Linked DNA regions of Homo sapiens: regions 1, 2, 4 and 5 are each reported to be linked to region 3. Evidence: microRNA targets listed by miRTarBase, many of them from high-throughput screens and not tested one by one. Region 3 holds a microRNA gene; each other region holds the end of a gene's coding sequence.
Evidence for each region. The annotated mature microRNA hsa-miR-6887-3p reads UCCCCUCCACUUUCCUCCUAG and lies in region 3 at 1,210-1,230, opposite strand. An mRNA with a match to its seed (bases 2 to 7 or 8) in the 3' UTR can be bound and repressed. Matches are read on the target gene's strand: a 7mer-m8 pairs with bases 2 to 8, a 7mer-A1 pairs with bases 2 to 7 and ends in A, and an 8mer does both.

Region 1 (4,094 bases), not on the chromosome of region 3:
TTCATAAGGAGCTTGCAACCTAGATCCCTCGCATGCACTGTTCACAAGGGTTTGTGTTCCTATGAGAATCTAACACTGCTGCTGATCTGACAGGAGGTGGAGCTCAGGCAGTAATGTGAGCGATGGTGAACAGCAGTAAACACAGATGAAGCTTCTCTCACTTGCCTGCTGCTGATCTACTGCTGTGTGGCTCAGCTCCTAACAGGCCATGGGCCAGTGCCAGTCCACAGCCCAGGGGTTGAGGGCTCCTGTTGTAGCACCTGAGTTGACCAACAGTTAATGTGTGGGTGGGGATTGGGATCGGGCCCATGCTCTTTTAGTTGTCTGACTGTGCTTTCAGTATTATTTTTGTAGACGTTGGCCCCATCAGGTATGGTGAGAATAAGCTCTCTAGGCCTGTATGATGCCTTACACCCCTCCTTTTCTTTTCCAGATACTTCTAGGACCTAACACAGGGCTCTCAGGAGGAATGCCAGGGGCTCTACCCTCACTTCCTGGAAAGATCTAGATTGTTATTGCTGTTTGAGCTGTCTCAGTGGGATAAGTTTGAAATTCAAGTGTTTGAACTGCTGATAATTTGGATTTTTTTTTTTTTTTAACTTTGGCACATTGATCTATCTAAACCTGGTGGGGAGAATTATCCCCACATTGTCTCATGGAAAGACTCAACTTGCAACTGTGCCCTCCACACTATCCTTACTTCTGTCTCCACTCTGATACCAGAGTGCAGCCATGCAGATGGTTATTCCAGCTCTGGTCACCCGACTCCTTTCACCAAATTGCTCCTAACTGGAAGATCTCACTTTCCCCTTGTGGGGTAGGAACCGATGCCAGTGGGAGGGATGTGCCCCTGACCATTAACGACTGTTTTTTTTTTTTTTTTTTAAAGAATGGAGTTGTTGGGGCAGGACATGCACACAATGTGAAACAGACAAAATGCATTACACCTGTAGTGTAAAGTGGCCACTATGAATCCCTATGTATGAGAGGAGGGAGGCAGGCTGCAGCTTCAGCCACAGAATGGGGACTATGGAAGACAGCAGGAGCTCATTTCCTCTGCACATTTTGGCTGTTAGACCTGTGTGTGTGTTTAAAAAAAGAGAAGTCAGTGCTCACTTTTTGTATTTAAATATTAAAAATGATTCCAACTGAAAGTGTCATCCTAAGTACCTTGAAATGAGACCACGTCAGAGACATGTACTGCCCCTCACATTTTCTCACCTAAACCAGCAGCACCTCCATCTTAACAGCCATAGGCCCAAATTGTTTCCAAGTGAAAATTCATTTTTAGCCAAGTACTTCATAGCAATCTTTGCCCTGAATTTAGGCAGTCACTTTGAGATCCATCAGCCTAAAACAAAGGATTGGGTCTATGTACTTCTTTAGTCTATAATGACACTGTGTAATTATAAAGTATTTGTAGGGAATAACATAGTACTGATTTCTGGGGAATAGGGGAGGGGGACAGAATTTTTTTTTTTTTTTTTTTGCCTGAGATCAGGTCTCACTGGAGTACAGTGGTGTCGTTTGGGTTCACTGCAACCTCTTACCTCCCCTCCAACTTGGCCTCCTGGGTAGCTAAGACTACAGGTACACGCCACCGTGCCCAGCTAGTTTCTTTTATTTTTGGTAGAGTCAGGGTTTCGCCTTGTTGCCCCAGATAGTCTTGAACTCCTGAGTTCTAGCCATCCACCCGCCTCTGGCCCCTCAAAGTGCTGGGATTATAGGCGTCACCCACCACGCCCAGCCAGAGTAAGCCTTTTGTGTGTTTATCAGATCAACCAACACTACAATCTAGGTGGTACTGTTCCCATTTTACAGAAGAGGAAACAGCCACAGAAAGGTAATTGCTCAAGGCTGCAGAGTTAAGTGCTAGACCTGGATTCAAATCCAGGCAGTCCAGCTACAGAACACTGCTGCTGTGCGCTCGGGATGGTGGGGCTGGGCCCAGGCCCGCTGGGTATACATGATCTTTCACTTGTTAACTAGGGAAAAACACTAGTCACCAGTGTGGTACAAACTTGTACTTAGGTGGATTCTTCAAATTGTCAAGATTAGTTTTTATAAATTAAAATAGACTGAAAAATGTCTTAGAGACATCTTTTGAACCAAATCCCATTTCAGTGACTATTTTGTCTGGATTTCTCAGGTGAAAGAGTTAATCAAAGAATGATATGTCTCTAAAAGATGACTTACGCTGGCAATGAACTCCTTTTAAAACAGCGTCATACTAAAGTTTATTTTTCTTTACACAATTATAGAATTCAGGCAGACAAGGAGACATATATGGAGTTTTCCATTTTTAATATTTGGTTAAACAAAATACATCTTTTGTAAACAAACGCAGCACAAGGCCAACAACAAAAAGGAATAAAAGCAAGAAAAACAAAAAGCCTAGGGTTGCCCGTTATTGGGCATCAGGGTCAGGCCTGTTCACTTCCTTAAAGGAAGTGGGGCTTTTTGCCCTTGGGCATCAGCATGGGTCCCTGTTCCTAAGCACCAGAATTGGATATGAACAGAGAAACCAGCCCTGAAATGTTTAAGCGTCTTTGCATATCCCATTGGCTCATGGACTCCAAGTGCATGGGGACTCTTTCAAGTGCCATTTGCACAGGCCCAAGTGGATTTGTGGAGAGGAGTTTCCTCCTCTACCCAAGAAATGGCTTACTATCTGACAGTGCCAGTGGCCCCAAGGTCCTGCTTGTGACAATCAGCAAGGTTGGCTGTAATGTCTGGCTGGTGGTGGTTGGAATGTCATTGTGCAGGGCAGGAAAAGAGCTCCCTGTGGTGCCAAGCAGGTCTGGTGTAGAAAATGGTGCAGAAGAGACTGCGGCCAGTTGCTGAGAAGATATAACGCAGTAGCCGCTTGGTGGCCTGTTACTCAGCATTAAAAAAACGGCCTTGTTGGATTGAAGATACATGTGCAGAAAAAGTGCTGGTGTCAACATGCACTCCAGTCACAGGGGGGAGAAAGCCCAGCTTCACCCCGTTAAGCTTGCTCAGGATCAACATGCAAGCCCCAGGCTGGCTTTGCTGCTGGAGAGAAGTCTGGCCAGTGGGACAGCTCTCAGACCTGCCACGACCATTGATCTGAGGGCCAGCAGGTCACCCCTGCCTGCCACCTGCCTTGAGGCAACCACATCCACTTTGGAGACACGCATATGGTATGATACTTATTTCTCCTCTTTTGTTTTCCAAAGTTACAAGAGAAAAGTGGCCTACAACTATCTGAAGAGGTAGGGGCGGGTTGAACTTCCATTGATACAGAGAGGAAACGACATGAAGATGACCAGCCCAGGTCCTATTCCATCCATACAGCACAGAACCACCCAACCTGAGCTTGGCAACTACAGTGGCAGCCTCCGAGCCTAGAGTGTCTACTGAATTGTGGCTGCCCCTACTCCAAGAAGCCTGTCTTCACAATACTTTCCTCACCCAACGCTGCCCCAAATTAGTGGAATTTGATGTCAAAAGCAGACTTTTTTTTCCTGATTTTGCCAGAGTGAGTGAACTGGGAAAACTGCTCTTTGGCTTCTCTTTTGTCCCAGAGCCTCCTAAATCAATGCTGCGAAATGGTAGGGACAACACTGGAGTGAAGAAACCAAGCCACCCCATGGCTGTCCCAGGTTGGCTTTAGCCACATCCTGTTCAGTATCCTCCTCACTTCATACTAGAATATTAGTTAATTTTTCATTATAAAACTCTGCCGGGTGCGGTGGCTCACGCCTGTAATCCCAGCACTTTGGGAGGCCAAGGCGGGCAGATCACTTGAGGTCGGGAGTTTGAGACCAGCCTGACCAACATGGAGAAACCCCATCTCTACTAAAAATACAAAATTAGCCAGGTGTGGTGGCAGGCGCCTGTAATCCCAACTACTTGGGAAGCTGAGGCCTGAGAATCGCTTGAACCAGGAGGTGGAGGTTGCAGTGAGCCGAGATGGTGCCATTGCACTCCAGCCTGGGCAACAAGAGTGAAACTCAGTCTCAAAAACAACAACAAAAAACCTCCACGTATGGCCATAAACCACCCTTAAACCTGGGGATAAGGGTTGGAGACAGCATGCTGTACCGCTGCTAGGGTTTTGGACATGGTTT
Region 2 (4,106 bases), not on the chromosome of region 3:
TTCACACCTGCCATCTCACTGTCAGCCAGTGGTAAATACATAGCTGACTTTAGCCTTTTTGACCAAGTTGTGAAAGTGGCCTCTCCTAGTGGCCTCCGTGACAGCACTGTACGCTACGGAGACCCTGAAAAGCTCAAGTTGGAGGAGTCATTAAGGGAGCAAGCTGAGAAGGAGGGCAGTGCCCTTAGTGTGCGCATCAGCAATGTCTGATGACCTGTTCCCACTCCCCCATTCCTCTGGTCTCTTTTCCTCTCTTCCAATGCCCTGGTAAGGAATACTACCCGGGTTTACTGGAGATCCCCCGAAGCACCCATCCTCCACTCCCTCTTCTTTAACCCAGTGGCCTGTTGGTAGCTTAGGCCAACTGGAGTCCAGGTTCGCCTCCCACTGTCCCCTTTCCACTTCCCCAGCTTCTGCCCCAATACACATACCTCCCTTAAGCCAGGATGGGGGAAAGAGTGGGATTAGGCTGAAGTGGCTTAGAAGGCCTCAGCCATGCTTGGATACTCACATTAGGAGGACCATGTGGTTGGAAGGATAGACTGCCCCCTACCTCCCACCACCACCATGAAGTTTGGTGACTTGAGGCTGGAGCTCCCTCTGTTACCTTTCCATCTAGCAAGTTCCCAAAGGCAAGACTCTCTCTGATGGTCACTTTGTGGTCTGTGCTTTCAGAAATACAGGAATCTGATATCAACATATCCTAGGGTTTCTACCAATCTCTGTTGAAAGAAGCCAGGGTTTGCCACTGTGAAGCTTGATTTCTGCTGGTGACTTCTGACCATAAGCTAGAACCATGGTCGCCACTGTTTTCCCTCTGTAGTTTCTCAAGTGAACACTCTCAGGATACCCAGTTCCCTCATAGCCTCTGTTCTCAGAGAATTGGAGTTGGCCCAAGAAACATAAACATATAACCACCCATATCTATCCTGGATTCTGAACTCTTCAATTTGGAGTGACTAACACAAGTTGTTATCTAAACCTTTAAACCTATCTTCCAGGCAGCCCAGAGAAGATCTGTTTCCCTGTGTCCTGTGAATGGAAGGACCCAAGCCAATATGTTCCTTTGAAAAGAGTCCAGTACCCAGGCCCCATGGAAAGGTCTGAAAATAATATTCCAGATTACACTGTACCTGGCTTCTCTTCTTCCTTTCCTGCTCAGCCTAGATCCTTCTTCCTTAACCCCAACTCTTTGGGAGAAGGGAGGGAAAATGCAAGGGCCTTCCTCTCTTAACACGGATGCTCAAGTAAAACTAGATTCACAGGGCACAGATTCCCCAGAAAGTTAACACAATCCCACCATGAGGGATGGGTAAATTCTCAGATTTCCAAACTGCTGTACAGAGCCTCTGAGAATTGGTGATGCTTTGTTAAGGTTTGGGCAGGAGCAGAACTCTGTGGCTGGCAGCCACTATTCTCAGTTACACCTCCCAGTGCCCTTCTGAAAAGTGCCAGCTATTTCATTAGGCAATGCTGGAAGGAAATGAAATTATACCTTCTGATCAAATAACCATGGCTTCCCTCAGCCATTCCTGAGACTTGGTATAAAATGAAGAAATCAGTGTCATCTCTACTCTCCTCTGCCATGAGGCCATTTTCAGACAAGTTAAAAAGTAGACTTTAAGAGATCAAACTCAGCCTATTCCTTGTTCCCTGGTGGGGTCTGTGGTAAGGGTCAGGGAAGGGCATATAGGCACCAGAGCTTTATCCAAAGCCCCAAATCCCTAGAGTGCTTTCTGGTCTCACTTTGGTACCAAGGAAGCCTCACATAGTGGTACTGCATAGTCCCACTATAAGTCAAGTTGCAGTTTAAGGTGGTCTCAGCCAATTGTTACAAGCTACAGAATATATACATGCATCTATGTACAGAGCCTTGCAGAGAAACACAAAATTTTGAGGCTAGACCCATGATCACCACCAACTATAATTGCACAAGGTCTTGTTATATTGATCTCTCCTCGAACTCAACTAACTATATCTTGAAAACAAAGACCCTTCGGTGTCCATCTACAGTAAACCCCACCATTACCTTCTAGTTGGCATAAAAACAAGAACCACAAAAACTTGAAAAATCTGAAACAGAGAACAGAAGGCCAAGAGCCAGCTTCTGCGTTCTCAACTTTATTCAACATTAGACTTACCTTATTTCTTTCAGTGTGTAGGGACAAGATGTACTGCTGTGTGTGTGTGTGTGTGTGTGTGTGTGTGTGTGTGTGTGTGTGTGTGTGTCTATACCTTCCTATCCATTGCCAAGTTAACCTCCATCTGGTTTATTTGGCCATGCTATGCTTTCTTCCCATTCCCCTGCTGTCTATTCTAAGCCCCCAGACTCAAGCCTCTAGACTCTTGGATGAAACAGTGAGAAGAAAACATTTTCTGACTTACCCTTTTGGAATCTCCTCCATTATTACCCAGGCTTTGCTTTAAGTTGCACTTTAAATCACACTGTCCTATTAATGCGATCTGGCATCTTCTCCCACAAGCCCCCTACAGGGAACAACTACCCCCTACCTTAACTCTAAATGGTTCTTTAGACTATAGTCTGTCTCCTCTGACCTGAAATCCTCTTTTAGGCAATAGGCCGAGCTTTAGAAGCAGCCAGGTCTGGTGAGAAATGGGCCCCCATACCAACTGTGGACTTGGAATATCAGCAGAGTAGTAGGCACAGTTGTAAAAAGGGGAGATTTCGGTAGGCACAGGTGTAAAAAGGGGAGATTTCAGAAGACGGGCGAAACAACTGATGGGGGAAGATACCTGGGGTGAGAAGATGAGAAAGAAATGATGCTGAGGGACCTAGTGAAATCAATGAAACTCTTGAGTCTTGCTTAGGCTCGCAAACAAGAAGTGGGGAGGCTTGGGAAATTAGGATATGACATATATGAAAGGTTTATCTAAGAAGAAAGAAACAGAGATAATATATATATAGAAAGATGTATATAGATGTATATATGCCCAAATATATTGAATGTACAGAAAGGAAATATTCAGAGACTTTAGCATTGGGGGCAGATATCTTGGCCTGGTTATGGGGTAGGACACCCAGATTTTCAGACTTACAATCAGTGGTCCTGGTTTCAACATGGAAGTGAGATAGCTGATGAAGGATTTCAAGTCTGGAAATGGGAAAGGGAGGGGTAGAAGTTCCTTTTCAGAAATAAAGAGGCATTCATGAAGGCTTTTGTTGAATCCTATGCTACTGATAGGACCAGGAAGAGAGGAACTCGGAGGACAATAGGGAGGGGAAGTCTTGGAAAATCTACCACTTACACTGTGTGTCCCCATCCCCAGCAGCGTCCTGCCACTGTAGCGCCTTTTTAAAATAAATAAAATAAAATAAAGCACCATTTTGTTTCCCTTTCATGAAGTACACTGTATTTCCGTCTTCCACAGGGGTGGGAGCTGCTATTGCTCTAGCCCCTGAAATCAAACTCAGGAGCTGAACACTTTGGTGTATGGGAGGCACTAATGGGAAGCCTCAACCCTGGAATCCAAATGCCAGGACTAATAGCTGTTAGGCTGAAGATCTCCCAAGGTCAAGGCCCAGCCTTTTGTGTGGCTGCAAGCAGCCCAAAGAGAAAGCCATGGATTCCAGAAGAGTTCCAATCCTGGCATTTGGGCATGGAGGGTGATGCTTTGGTTTTGATGCTTCTGAATGAAAATGAGGAGTGGGGTTACCAGCTGCTCTAGGGGATGGTGAAGTTCCATGAGAGGCTTCCGAAATCTCTGCAATGTGCTTCACCCCATTATTCCCCCAACCCCTGTCAGCCTAATAAAATCATCCAGTAGTTTCCCTATAAGGTCTGAGCAGAGAAAGAAAGCCAGTTATACTATTGCTACAAGTCCAGGACACTGTGCCCTCTCCATGGCTGCTGCCCTGGTCCTTTATTCTTGCTAGCTAACCTAGTTCACTTGTACAGTAACACACTACCTTTGCTGGAAAGTTAGCATGGGTCTCCAGGCTCAGTAATGGCCAACTCTACTGATGCAGAAGTATTTAGGGATGTTTTTTCCATTCATTGCACTAAAGACTAAACCAGGTCAAATTTATCTAGGAAAAAAAAGGTGTGTAAGATTTGTTTTGTTTTTGTCTGTTAAAAATAAGCTAC
Region 3 (4,117 bases):
AGCGGGACGATCCTATGTCCCAGTTTTCCTGGAATGGTCCAGGGTCCACTGGAATGTTCCAGTGTTCCATCTGGTTAGAGCTCTCTTTCATTCCTTTTGGCTACTAGTAAATCCCAAATTGCATATGAGGTTCCCATGGCTGAGGAGGCAGAGGGCGGGCCTGTGCCATGTCCCAAGCCACAAGGGAACAGGCCTGTGGGCTTTTCCCAACAAGCAGGCTCAGTGCCAGCCTCTGTGTCAGCCTCCAGGGCACGCCAACCTTCTCATGGTGCCCCAAGCCCCACCCCAATGCACACATAGGAAGTCTCCAGGCTGCTTGGGCAGAGGCACAATCATTTTAGATTAAAAAAAATTGAACAAAGAGACCCTCTTGCGAGAGGTGAGATGAGGCCCTGCCATGCAAAGGAGTCCCAGCAGAGGAGGAAGAATTCCATCCTGGAGTTCAAGTTTCTGTGCAGAGACAGGACCTGGGGACAGAGAACGGTCCTCCACCCAATTTCAGCTGGTCTGTCCTCATCAGCTTTGGGCTGAGCCTGCGGGAAGTGATGGGGTCCGTTTGTGAGGGTGGATTGAGTTCTTTTCTTTCCAGTGTGCAAACACACACATACACACACACACACACACCACTTCCGTGTTCCCCTGAGCCCCATGCTGCCCCATCTTACCTGGGGTGATGAGAGGTGGAGTCTCCCCTGGATGGTGACTAAGGAGACAAAAGTGGTGAGATTGGTGTCCGCCCCCATTTGCCCTCTCCCTCCGGATAGAGGGTTCTTAGCCTGCCCAGACATGTCTTCCTGGCTGCCTTTCCATTTGGGGGGTTGTGCAATCCCAGGGGCCAAAGCATTTCAGGATTTGGGGCCCCCTGGGGATTACCAGCTAGAAACAATAAACCTGGAAATCTTAGCGGCAGGAACTCTAAAGGGCAGAGCCCCGAGGCCTCTCCTGCTGGGAGAGTTAGCCCTTTCACCCTGAAAAGCGTCCAGTCAGCCTGAGGCGGGCATGCCGGAACAGTATCTTACCCGGACTTCTGGCCAAACTTGCATTTGCATTTTGCACCTGTTGGGGAGAGCTGAGTGGTCAGGGGAGGGGAGCCCCAGCCCCGGCCCGCCTGCTCCCCCGAGCTCCTCCACTCACTCATGACGATGATGATGCCCATGGCGCACAGAACCCCAGCGCAGATGAGCCCGCCAACCTGGAGGCTGTGCCAGTCTAGGAGGAAAGTGGAGGGGACCTCAGTGCCAGCCTGTGTCCTCTCCATCTGTCCCCCCATTCTCTTGACAAATATATATGGAGCACCTAGGATGCACAGGGTGCTGGGGACACCGCCATAAGAAAACAGACAAAATCCCAGGTGCTCACATTCTGGTTCACACACCAGCAAACACGATCTGTCGTGCAGGGTCAGGCAGAGATAAGTGGTTTGAAGAAAAATAAGTGGGGTGGGAGATGGAAAGTCAGAGGGCGGGCTGGGCATAGTGGCTGACACCTATTAGGTTGGAGCAAAAGTGATTGCGTTTTTGGCTAGACATGGTGGCTCACGCCTGATATCCCAGCACTTTGGGAGGCCAAGGTGGGCGGATCACCTGAGGTCAGGAGTTCCAGACCAGCCTGGCCAACATGGTGAAACCCCGTCTTTACTAAAAATACAAAAATTAGCCAGGCATGGTGGTAGGCGCCTGTAATCCCAGCTACTCAGCAGGCTGAGGCTGGAGAATCATTTGAACCCGGGAGGCAGAGGTTGCAGTGAGCCAAGATTGCACCATTGCACTCCAGCCAGTCACACTCTGGGTGAAAGAGCAAAATTCTGCCTCAAAAAAAAAAAATTGCATTTTTGCCATTAAAAGCAGTTGCAAAAACCACAATTACTTTTGAACCAACCTAATATAATCCCAGTGCTTTGGGACTTCAGGAGTTCAGGAGTTCTAGACCAGCTTGAGCAACATAGTGAGAACCCATCTCTACAAAGTATACAAAAATTAGCCAGGCATGGTGGTGTATGCCTGCAGTCCCAGCTATTCAGGAGGCTGAGGCAGGAGGATCGCTTGAGACCAGGAGTTTGAGGCTGCAGTGAGCTATGATTACACCACAGCACTCCAGCTTGGGCAACAGTGTGAGACGCTGTCTCTAAAACAAAAAAAAAGTCAGATGGCAGCTCTTTTAGAGGGAGTTGTCAGGGAAGGCCTCTCAGGGGGCTGCATTTGAGCAGAGGGAAGGGAGGGAGCCATGTGGTTCTGTGGAAGGAAGTGTTCCAGGCAGAGGAACCAGCAGGTGCAGAGGTCTGAGGCTGGCAGTATGTCTGCTGTGTCTGAGAGGCTTGGAGCAGAAGGAATGAGGAGCGTGGAGAGGTGAGGGCAGAGCGGGGAGTAGGGAGCAGGTCATTGGAACCTGGAGGCCAGATGAGGGTTTTGATCCAATAGCTCACCACCTCCAGGAAGTTTTCTCAAGTCAACACTTCTCCCAGCAGTTGATCTGAACCAACCAATGGCTTCTTGCAAACTGTCCTCACCTCCTGCGTGTGTCTATCTTGCTGGAATAGAACCTTCCCAAAGGCCAGGTTGCTGCCTCTAGTTCCTTTAATCCACTGTGTGGCATATTCAGTAACCCCATCCTAGTCCCTTCGTATCTTTGTCCTGTGATGCTCACGTCAGGCCCCAACCCTGTATGGGAACCCTTGGCACCAAGCAGTATGTGGGGTTGTGGGGAGGGGAAAGGGGGCACGGGCTCTCACCATAGTAGAAAGGACTGTTTTTATCTGCAAGGAAAGAAAAAAGATCATGAATCCAGGATTACAGCCAGGATGCAGGCCTTCCCCACCCAGGGGAGAATTTGGGGGTGTGACGGGTGAGAGTCCAGTCTGACTCACCTTCTAGGTCATTGGCGTCCAGGACAGGAAAGCCTAGTGGGAGAAGAGGGGAAGGAGGGGAGATGGTGATGCCGGCCTCAGCCAAGCCTTTGGGCAGGGCCTGGGGAGTTTCAGGGGCCTTGGGAAAGGGTCTCCTGCGGGACAGGGGTCCTGTCACTGAGCAGCCACCTCATCCCCTCATATCCCAACGAGGAAATGTGGACTCGCCCACTCAGCCCCACACCTCCGAGTCACGCCAGCATTCTGCCACCTGAAATGGGTTCTAATCTAGGAGGTTTTTAGCCACTATTTGGTCTCATGTTTCCAGACACGTGGTTAATCCATGCCTCCTGCAGCAGCGGGGGACTTTTCTGGTCAAGACGACAGATGGTTTCAGTTCCCAGATTCCTGTTTCCCCAAGTCCAATCATGCTCAAAGCCCATCCTCCCGCTTCCACCATGTCCACACCCACCTGGTCTGGTGTTTGCACATCATTGAAAATGACTCACTATTATACACTTAAATAGACTTTATTGAAAATGTAATTTTAGATCACTACCCTGCAGGGAATACTGGTCTTGCCCTATGTAATGGACAAAAAGTGTGCCTGTAATCCCAGAGCTTTGGGAGGCTGACGTGGAAGGATCTCTTGAGCCTGGGAGGTCAAGGCTGCAGTGAAAAAGTAAAAAGCGGGCTGGGCACAGTGGCTTAGGCCTGTAATCCCAAAACTTTGGAAGGCCGAGGCAGGAGGATCACTTGAGGTCAGGAGTTCGAGACCAGCCTGGCCAATATGGTGAAACCTTGTCTCTTCTAAAAATACAAAAGTTAGCCAGGCATGGCAGCACACGCCTGTAATGCCAGCTACTTGGGAGGCTGAGGCAGGAGAGTCGCTTGAACCTGGGAGGTGGAGGTTGCAGTGAGCCGAGATCATGCCACTGCACTCCAGCCTGGGCAACAGAGCGAGACTCTGTCTCCGAAAAAAAAAAAAGAAAAGAAAAAAGGGAAAAGTGTTTGGAAGTTAAAGATGCAGTCGCACTGAGCTGAGCCTTCTACTTGAAGTTTTTAGAGAACTGGCAGGGCAGTTATCTTCTTTCAGTGCTTTGAAGGTGTCATTTCATCATCTTCTCTAGCTTCCGTTATTTCTGTTTAATAGTCAATCAAGGCCAGTGCAGTGTGGCTCATGCCTGTAATCCCAGCACTTTGGAAGGCTGAGGTGGGAGGATCAAACTCAGCCAGGAGTTTGAGACCAGCTTGGGCAACACAGTGAGACCTCGT
Region 4 (4,094 bases), not on the chromosome of region 3:
ACAAGGAGGTCTGCACTGCTGGGGAGGTAACTCCTAAAAGACTTAAATCCCAGAGGGAATTCATGGCCAGGGGTCACTGACAAATCGCAACTCCTAGCACCTTAAAAAGAATAACGGTCTGTCAGTTGCTTAAGGATTGAGTTATTAATTAATGAATCTAAAAAGGAAAAACGACGCTGTCTTCTCTGCTGACTCCATCTGAAATATGAAAATGTCTCAGAGCAGTATAATTATTGTGTAGGCTCCAGGGAACCCGAAAGAGCTCAAGGACACAGTGGGAACTCAGTGTCTTCTTGTCAAATAATCCAGGGAAGCTGTGGGTGAATCTTTGTCAGCCTGGTAACAACTAGCAACTTCTGAAAATACATGTTTCTGACTCCGTATCACTTAGATTTGTTTCCTTTCATATGAAGCCTGTAAAGAGCTCATTTCCAGCTTATTTCCATGAACATAGATGAATCTGGTATACAGCAGGAATGAATACCAAGCCAAATGCTCTAATTTAAAACTCAGTTATGTCAAGCATTTCTGTATTACCAACCAGATGGCACAAGGGTTTGCCTGGCCATTTGTATTGCTCAACTATTAACCTTGCCAGTAAGGTCTTCTCTAATCATTTTATTAGACTTTTTTTCTTTTTTTTTTTTTTTGAGATGGAGTCTTGCTCTGTTGCCCAGGCTGGAGTGCAATGGCACTATCTCAGCTCACTGCAAACTCCACCTCCCAGGTTCAAACGATTCTCCTGCCTCAGCCTCCCGAGTAGCTGGGACTACAGACGCACACCATCAAATCCGGCTAATTTTTGAATTTTCAGTAGAGACGGGGTTTCACCATGTTGGCCAGGATGGTCTCGATCTCTTGACCTCATGATCTGCCTGCCTTGGCCTCCCAACATGCTGGGATTACAGGCGTGAGCCACCACGCTTGGCCGTTTTAGACTCTTGATTCTTAATGACCTTTCCTTTGCCTCTAATCCACGGGTTCTCATGGGGGGTTATTAGAAATTCCATGGAGTTTTAAAAAACTGCAGATGTCCAAGTCTTACCTAGACCTTCACAGCTTGAGACTCTGGGATTAGGGCTGAGTATGCATACATTTTAGAAAATATTTACTGAGGATTCTGAAGTGATCTCTTGGTTAAAAATTCCTTCCTAATCTATTCATCACTGATTTTTTTTTTTTTTTTTTTTTTTTTGAGATGGAGTTTCACTCTTGTTGCCCAGGCTGGTAGTGCAATGGCTCCATCTCGGCTCACTGCAATCTCCACCTCTTGGGTTCAAGTGATTCTCCTGCCTTAGCTGCTGAGTAGCTGGGATTACAGGCATGCAACCAAACCCGGCTAATTTTTGTATTTTTAGTAGACATGGGTTTTTGCCATGTTGGCCAGGCTGGTCTTGAACTCCTGATCTCAAGTGATCCGCCCACCTTGGCCTCTCAAAGTACTGGGATTACAGGTGTGTGCCACCATGCCCCGGGCCATCCATCATTCACTTCTAAATGGTTCATTGTTAATTCTCCATCTTATGTTCACCCTCTACCCAGTAAGCCTGTCTCTAATTCTTTAAGGGAGGCAAATACTAACCCAATGACTGTTTTTAATTCTCATGGAACCTTTAAGTGAGGAAGTTTGTTTGTAGTTAACCAAAGTAATGGTTATTTTTTGAAATAACAAAAATAGGGATTCTTTTTTCTTTTATAAATTAAGTTTAATTTAGAAACTTATAAACGTTTTAATTTTTGAGCATCCAGCTTCAGAAATAAAAATAATACCTAAAATGAGAGTATAAACATGTTTATTATTTTTCAGAGTTTACTTCCTTTCTTCATTTATTAGCAGATAGAGACTACTGACCCCCTCTCTTGCTGAATGTTGTAAAGAAATTAAAAGTTTAGGTAGATGAGTTACCCACACCCATCCTAAAACACCACAGAGCCCCCTAATAGCCTCAAAGGAAGCACAACTTTCTGGCTTTTCTATAGGGGTTTATGGCCGGGATATAGCACCTACTTGAAATAAAATAGAGTCAGAGTTCATCTAAACCACCCCAAAAGTGTTTGGCATTAAACTCAAGGATTCAAATATTTCAGGAATCTGGAAACTACCAATTACTTAATAATGAAGCAAATTAAGTGAAATTCATAAAGGTTGAAGGTTCTAAATGGCCCAGTGTAGGAAGAAGAGTCAAGCTGTCAGACAGCTTGGAATGGAAATATTACATTTCCAGCTGTTGGTGGAAATCTATAAAAATCTGAGCAAACAGACTGTAGGTAACAGACATGTTACTGCTTCTCTAGTAATGCTTTAATTGCTGTTTGCAACTGTTTTTGTTTGTTTGTAATCCATTTCCTGATCATTAAGGACTCAGATATAAAAAGAATTCCTGCTTTATTCTCTACAAGCTGTCAACAAGATGGAAAAACAGGGGGGAATTATAGCCTACAGCAGTATGAGCAAAAAGAAAGAATGAACATTCAACAGATCAAGATGTGCTAGCAGGAGTGCATGTAGCATCCTGTGTCATGGAGCAGGCCTTTAGACACAGAACCAGACATGGGACTTGTTAGGATACACTGTCCAATCCCAGGGGTGAACACACACCGCACACTAGCTAAAATATCTAGTTATTCCTACTACACAAAACATATGTAAAGCTTCCGCAAAAGAAAGAACTCACCTCCACTGCTGCTGAGAATTAGTCCTCTCCTACTCTAACTCTGGCTTCTCCTTAACCGGTCATAAAACTAGAGGCATAAGGAAGTCCTGACTGGAGAGCTAGAAGGATACTGGTTTCTGACTTGCCTTGTGATGAACCAGTCAGTACTACAGAAACCTGCTTATTTATAAACAGAGCACTTTTATGTGGTCATCTCTTGAGAACCTGTACTAATAAGCTCTAACAAAAAGCATGGGAACCTGGAATCAATAAATAATCCTAAAAACCTCATTTTACCTAGTGATTGCATCCTTCTCTCTGGCAATTAAACTGACTTCCACGTGTCCTTAGGTCTCTATTCTGGAGGATAAGAGAAGCATCAAAAAATCACTGACTGAGTTGACCATCCAGCCCTAAATAATGAAGAGATGACATAAACTATTTTAAAAATTGTAAGTGCCAAAAATCTTTTGGGTAGTCTTTTTAATCCCCGGCAGTTCCATCTCACAATATTAAATTCATTTGAAGATACAATAGTAATCTTTGGATAAGCATGAAAATAAAACATTAGAATCCCAAATATACTCCCCTAGGGGCAATCACATAAGCATATTAGAGATAAATGAAATTTTTTACAAATAGCAAACCTTTATTTACCAATTTGTGGTTTTTTCCCCCCGGTCTTAAATCTTGGGTATTTTGTATTTTCACATTTTTCACTTTCCTTCTGTCCCTAGATCCTCCTAATTTCCTATTACTCAAGTAATTTGTTCTGTTTAATCAAAGAAATCAACCTGATATTTCATTACATTTTGCTAAAAACTCAGAAATAAACCTATTTATGAAGCGCACTATGTCATATACTGTAAAAACTTCATTTTAGCCGTGTTATATTGCTGGCAATTACTGAACTACGAAAGGCTTTTTTTTTTCCCCTCTCTCTCTCTCAACTTAATAAAGCTTGTCAAAGTTTCCAGGAAACAAACTGTGACTTCCGCTTTTATTGCATTCTGATGGGATGAGTGATTACAGAAGCTCAGCATCACAGATCGCTCTCCCCGTAGAGTGCGGAAGAGAACGCAGCGTAATCCAGTGCACCAGGCACACTGCCTGGGCCCGAGTAGGCGGGCATCCTCTTGATGCAGTACTGGGCCTGATCCGGGGGCAGCTCCCGACGCAGCTCCTCCGCCAGGATGTATGGCTGGGAAAAAATACACACGTGTTTGCAGTCAGTTGCAGAAACACCACAACATAAACAGTCTTAATACTTACATATTTCTTGCATCTGTTTAATTTTTTAAAAGGACTAAAGAATAGGGAGTCTATTGGCATAGTAGTACCAGACAACCAACAGAAAGCCAAGTTTTACTTGTAGGAGCGTATCTAGAAGCGGCCTGGCCAGCAGGAAGGGTGATATGCTTCATAAAGGCAAATGGAGCA
Region 5 (4,111 bases), not on the chromosome of region 3:
ATCTTTATTTTTGATTAATTTGTTCTGATTTTTTGGTTTGTTTTTTAAGGAACTGTAATGAACAAATGTCAGGATATCCAATGCCAAATAAAGATGTTGTATTTATTTAGTCCACGTGTAGCTTTCTGACCAGGTGGGCACCATTACTAACCCCAGGACTACCAGCCTCACCACCGCCGCCCTCACTTGCTCAGGAAACCCGCCTGCCAGCCTAGCCCAGCTTTGTGTTTTTCTTTCCTCCCCATTCCCACCACAGGTTGCTCACCAAGGTGAAGGGTTCCTAGCCGCTGGGATTGAAGACATTGGCCTGGCCTCGTTCTCTCTTCTTGCCCTTGGCCCAGCTGGGACCAAACTCTGATCAGTATTAGGGGTAGAGTGAGGTAGACACTGGACTCCCTGTCCCCACCACCCCTGCCCCACCCAGGGCCAACATGACTAAGCTCTCTCATGACCCACCTCAGCTCAGCCCCCCAGCCCCTGCCAGCTCCACACTATCTCTTAGCTGAGTTTTTGCAAATAAAATGTGTTGTGTATCTTGCCGACTTGGGTTGGGCAGCCTCAAAGGAAGCACTCAGGTATGGTGGGCAGGATCACCAGAAAGCTTTTATTTTAACCCAGGGCCAGGGAGGCCGAAGCTTCAATCCTGCTGCTTGGTTCGGGAGGCCTCTGCATTGGCCCGGAGCACAGCCCCTGGGGATGGATACGGCCGCTGCTGGAAGAGGGGCCCAGCTGCTGTGGTGTCAGCGCCAGTCTTGGCCTCATTCCGCTTGGGGAGTCCTGTTGACCACGTGCCCCTGCCGGTGAAAGAGTCAGGGGATGGGGATGGGTGATGTGGCGGACACAGCCCACCTGGTCCCAATGAGGAATGGAGGAAGGAGGCCGGAGGATGGTGTCCACGTACTGAGTCAAGAGGGGTTGTCACTTACCGGGGGGCGTCTGAGTATGAGCTAGGGTCCATGGGGTCTAACTCTTCATCCTTTCGGCTTACTGCTGTGGAAGTGGCAGGGCAAAGTCTTCAATAGAGGCACCAGGATCCCCTGATCACTGAGCCCCACCCCACAAGAAGAAATGAAGCCCCTGGCTGCCATGTACCACAGCACCCTCCTCTAGCCCCAGGTCCAGGCATCTTTTTGAGGGAAGGCTTCCTCACGCAGTGCACCCTGCACCTTGTTGGTCTCACCGAGCCCCATTCTGCCCAGCTTACCCTTCTTGCTCTTGGGATAGGGAGCCAGCTCCTCCCGGCGATGGTGGCGCCGTTCTTTGCCCTCTTCCCGGTCTGCCTTGTCATACCCGCGGTCCCGATCCCGTTCCCTGTCTCGCTCTCTCTCTCTGTCTACCTTGTCATAGCCACGCTCTCGATCCCTGTCAGACTTGTCGTGGCCCCGGTCTGACTTGTCGTGGCCCCTGTCTAGTTTCTCATGGCTGCGGTCCGACTTGTCATGGCCCCTGTCCGACTTGTCATGGCTCCGGTCCAACTTTTCTTCAGCATCTGGGGACACAAGTCTTGAAGTGACCTCTTGCCACCCCAGGACCCAGCAGCCTCTGCCTTCAACAACCTCCCTTGCCTGAGGCTGGGCCCGCCTGGTCTCACCTGCCCCTCTGATCCACTATCATTCTACTTGGCCTCTCCGTGAGAACTGCTAAGATCACTCAAGGCACGCTTGTACCTGCCAACTCACCTGCATTACTGCTTCTGAGCTTCTTGGCCGATTTGGTAACCACGGAGTTGGGGTCATGTGGGGAGAGCCAGGATACAAGGTCTGTGTCTGCATTCCAGTAGTAAGGGAGCCCGCTGTGGGGCCGCAGGAAAGAAGTGTCAGCACAGATGTCCTTGCCTTGGATCCTCAACTCTTGTCTCCCCAGTCTCTGCCTATACCTGCCCCATGTCAGGACCCCACAGGCAGGATCCCCAGAATCTCTTCTCCTGAAGAGAAAACACTGTCAGCTGGGCGTGGTGGCTCATGCCTGTAATCCCAGCACTTTGGGAGGCCGAGGCAGGCGGATCACCTGAGGTCAGGAGTTCGGGACCAGCCTGACCAATATGATGAAACCCCATCTCTACAAAAAATACAAAAATTAGCTGGGTGTGGTGGTGTGCACCTGTAATCCCAGCTACCTGGGAGGCTGAGACAGGAGAATCGCTTGAACCCACGAGGCGGAGGTTGCCATAAGCCGAGATCACACCATTGCACTCCAGCCCGGGCTACAAGAGTGAAACTCCGTTTCAAAAAAGAGAGAAAAGACAGTCTTCCAACCCCAGAGGAGCCAGGCCCCAGCAGGCAGCAACTTGAGTCCTGCAGATACCTAATGCCAACACCCTCCACCCGAGGCTCCCTCCCTTGTGTCCCCCTAAACCTCACAACCAAGGTCAGCACAGGAAGGGTGAAGCCAGAAGTTAGCTCCCCCTCACCCAGGCTCACCAGGAAGGGTCGAACACCTTGTACCAGCTTGGTGGTAGGCCCTCCAACCTGGTGGCCTCGTAGTCCACAGGATCATCGTCATAGTCCTCGGCAATGATCTCTTCCTCTGGTTCTGGTAGAACAAGGTGGGGATGAGGAGAGCAGATAAGGACCAGGGGACCTCATCCTACATGTAGAGCCTAGAGACACGCACTCACATTCACACAAGCCACACATAAAAGACACGTGTGTGTGTGTGCCGGGAAGAATATGAAGTATCTTTCACATTCCAAATCCAACTCTCTATATTAGGAGGTTTACAAAAAAAGGTTACCTAAATCTGTGTCTGGGTTCAGATGATGAGTTCTACTGTTAGCCAAAGCTATCTGGTTTCAGAGTTGATAGGGATTCATCAAAAAATTTACTCATCTTGGCCAGGCGTGATGGCTCATGCCTGTAATCCCAGCACTTTAGGAGGCCAAAGTGGGTGGATCACGAGGTCAGGAGTTCAAGACCAGCCTGGCCAAGATGGTGAAAACCCGTCTGTGAGACTAGCCTGGTCAACATAGTGAGACCCCTGTCTCTACAAAAAAAAAAAATTAGCTGGGCACAGTGGCACACGTCTGTAGTCCCAACTACTCAGGAGGCTGAGGCAGGAGGCTCATTTGAGCCCAGGACTTTGAGCTTGCAGTGAGCTATTATCGTGCCACTGCACTCCAGCCTGGGCAACAGAGTGAGACCCTGTCTCTAAACAAATAATAAATAATATATATACCATAGGCACAGGTCATTCAATAGGCTTAAAAGAAAATCCAGCCTGGCCAACATGGTGAAACCCCATCTCTACTAAAAAATACAAAAATTAGCCAGGCACAGTGGAGCACGCCTGTGGTCCTAGCTACTCGGGAGGCTGAGGCAGGAGAATCGCTTGAACCCGGGAGGCAGAGGTTGCAGTGGGCCAAGACTGCACCACTGCACTCCAGCCTAGGTGACAGAGCGAGACTCTCTCAAAAAAAAAAAAAAAAAAAAAAAAAAAAAGTAAATCAATGATCATTGCCAGTTTTATTTTTTTGAGATGGAGTCTTTCTCTGTTGCCCAGGCTGGAGTGCAGTGGCATGATCTCGGCTCACTGCAAGCTCCGCCTTCCGGGTTCACACCATTCTCCTGCCTCAGCCTCCCGAGTAGCTGGGACTACAGGCATCTGGCACCACGCCCGGCTAAGTTTTTTGTATTTTTATTAGAGATGGGGTTTCACCCTGTTAGCCAGAATGGTCTCGATCTCCTGACCTCGTGATCCGTCCACCTCCGCCTCCCAAAGCGCTGAGATTACAGGCATGAGGCACCCTGCCCGGCCTGGGATCATTGACAATTTTATTAACCACAAGGTCTATACCTTGCACACAGTAGGCTTGTAATAGATGTCAGTTATCAATAAGGAGAAGATATATTTTCCAGTGCCTGGCACACTATAGCCCCAAATAGATGCCAGTTTTTAGTATTACTGATAATAAGGTGTGATTTGCAGCCAGAGCACAGTAGGCCTAAATGATAGATCCTCACTGCAACTACGCTTGGCACACAGGAGACAGCAGTAGAGGTTAGCAGTACTTCCTATTAGATACTATGTCATCACCCCCATAGAGTAATCCATGGGATTTAACTTGGCATACAGTAGGCCCCAAATAGGCATTAGGTGGTCAGTATTATTTTGT

Region 1: the mRNA of TOMM22 is a reported target of hsa-miR-6887-3p. Seed matches in the 3' UTR shown: 7mer-m8 at 1,457-1,463.
Region 2: the mRNA of KCNJ10 is a reported target of hsa-miR-6887-3p. Seed matches in the 3' UTR shown: 7mer-m8 at 3,129-3,135 and 8mer at 3,236-3,243.
Region 4: miRTarBase lists ACTN2 as a target of hsa-miR-6887-3p. Seed matches in the 3' UTR shown: 7mer-A1 at 3,586-3,592.
Region 5: miRTarBase lists SLC35A2 as a target of hsa-miR-6887-3p. The part of its 3' UTR that is shown has no 7-base or 8-base seed match.

The regions. Positions count from the first base shown.
Region 1 is chr22:38,683,334-38,687,427 of GRCh38, forward strand. It overlaps TOMM22 (translocase of outer mitochondrial membrane 22), which reads left to right. Exons shown (of 4, transcript NM_020243.5): 4 at 434-2,088. The coding sequence ends at 508. It overlaps JOSD1 (Josephin domain containing 1), which reads right to left. Exons shown (of 5, transcript NM_001360236.2): 5 at 2,210-4,094. Among named protein-coding and RNA genes, the nearest start is that of TOMM22, 3.4 kb to the left of the region's middle.
Region 2 is chr1:160,037,497-160,041,602 of GRCh38, reverse strand. KCNJ10 (potassium inwardly rectifying channel subfamily J member 10) reads left to right here. Exons shown (of 2, transcript NM_002241.5): 2 at 1-4,106. The coding sequence ends at 210. Among named protein-coding and RNA genes, the nearest start is that of PIGM, 7.6 kb to the right of the region's middle.
Region 3 is chr19:35,119,857-35,123,973 of GRCh38, reverse strand. It overlaps MIR6887 (microRNA 6887), which reads right to left and starts at 1,274; the gene lies at 1,210-1,274. It overlaps FXYD3 (FXYD domain containing ion transport regulator 3), which reads right to left. Exons shown (of 9, transcript NM_005971.4): 4 at 2,864-2,896; 5 at 2,729-2,752; 6 at 1,135-1,209; 7 at 1,020-1,056; 8 at 666-703; 9 at 1-533. The coding sequence ends at 517. RefSeq lists enhancers at 1-827, 828-1,717.
Region 4 is chr1:236,762,222-236,766,315 of GRCh38, reverse strand. ACTN2 (actinin alpha 2) reads right to left here. Exons shown (of 21, transcript NM_001103.4): 21 at 1,685-3,855. The coding sequence ends at 3,697. Among named protein-coding and RNA genes, the nearest start is that of MTR, 31 kb to the left of the region's middle.
Region 5 is chrX:48,899,611-48,903,721 of GRCh38, reverse strand. SLC35A2 (solute carrier family 35 member A2) reads left to right here. Exons shown (of 5, transcript NM_005660.3): 5 at 257-539. The coding sequence ends at 284. PQBP1 (polyglutamine binding protein 1) reads right to left here. Exons shown (of 7, transcript NM_001032382.2): 3 at 2,421-2,532; 4 at 1,680-1,792; 5 at 1,205-1,489; 6 at 927-990; 7 at 579-794. The coding sequence ends at 638. Among named protein-coding and RNA genes, the nearest start is that of PQBP1, 3.7 kb to the right of the region's middle.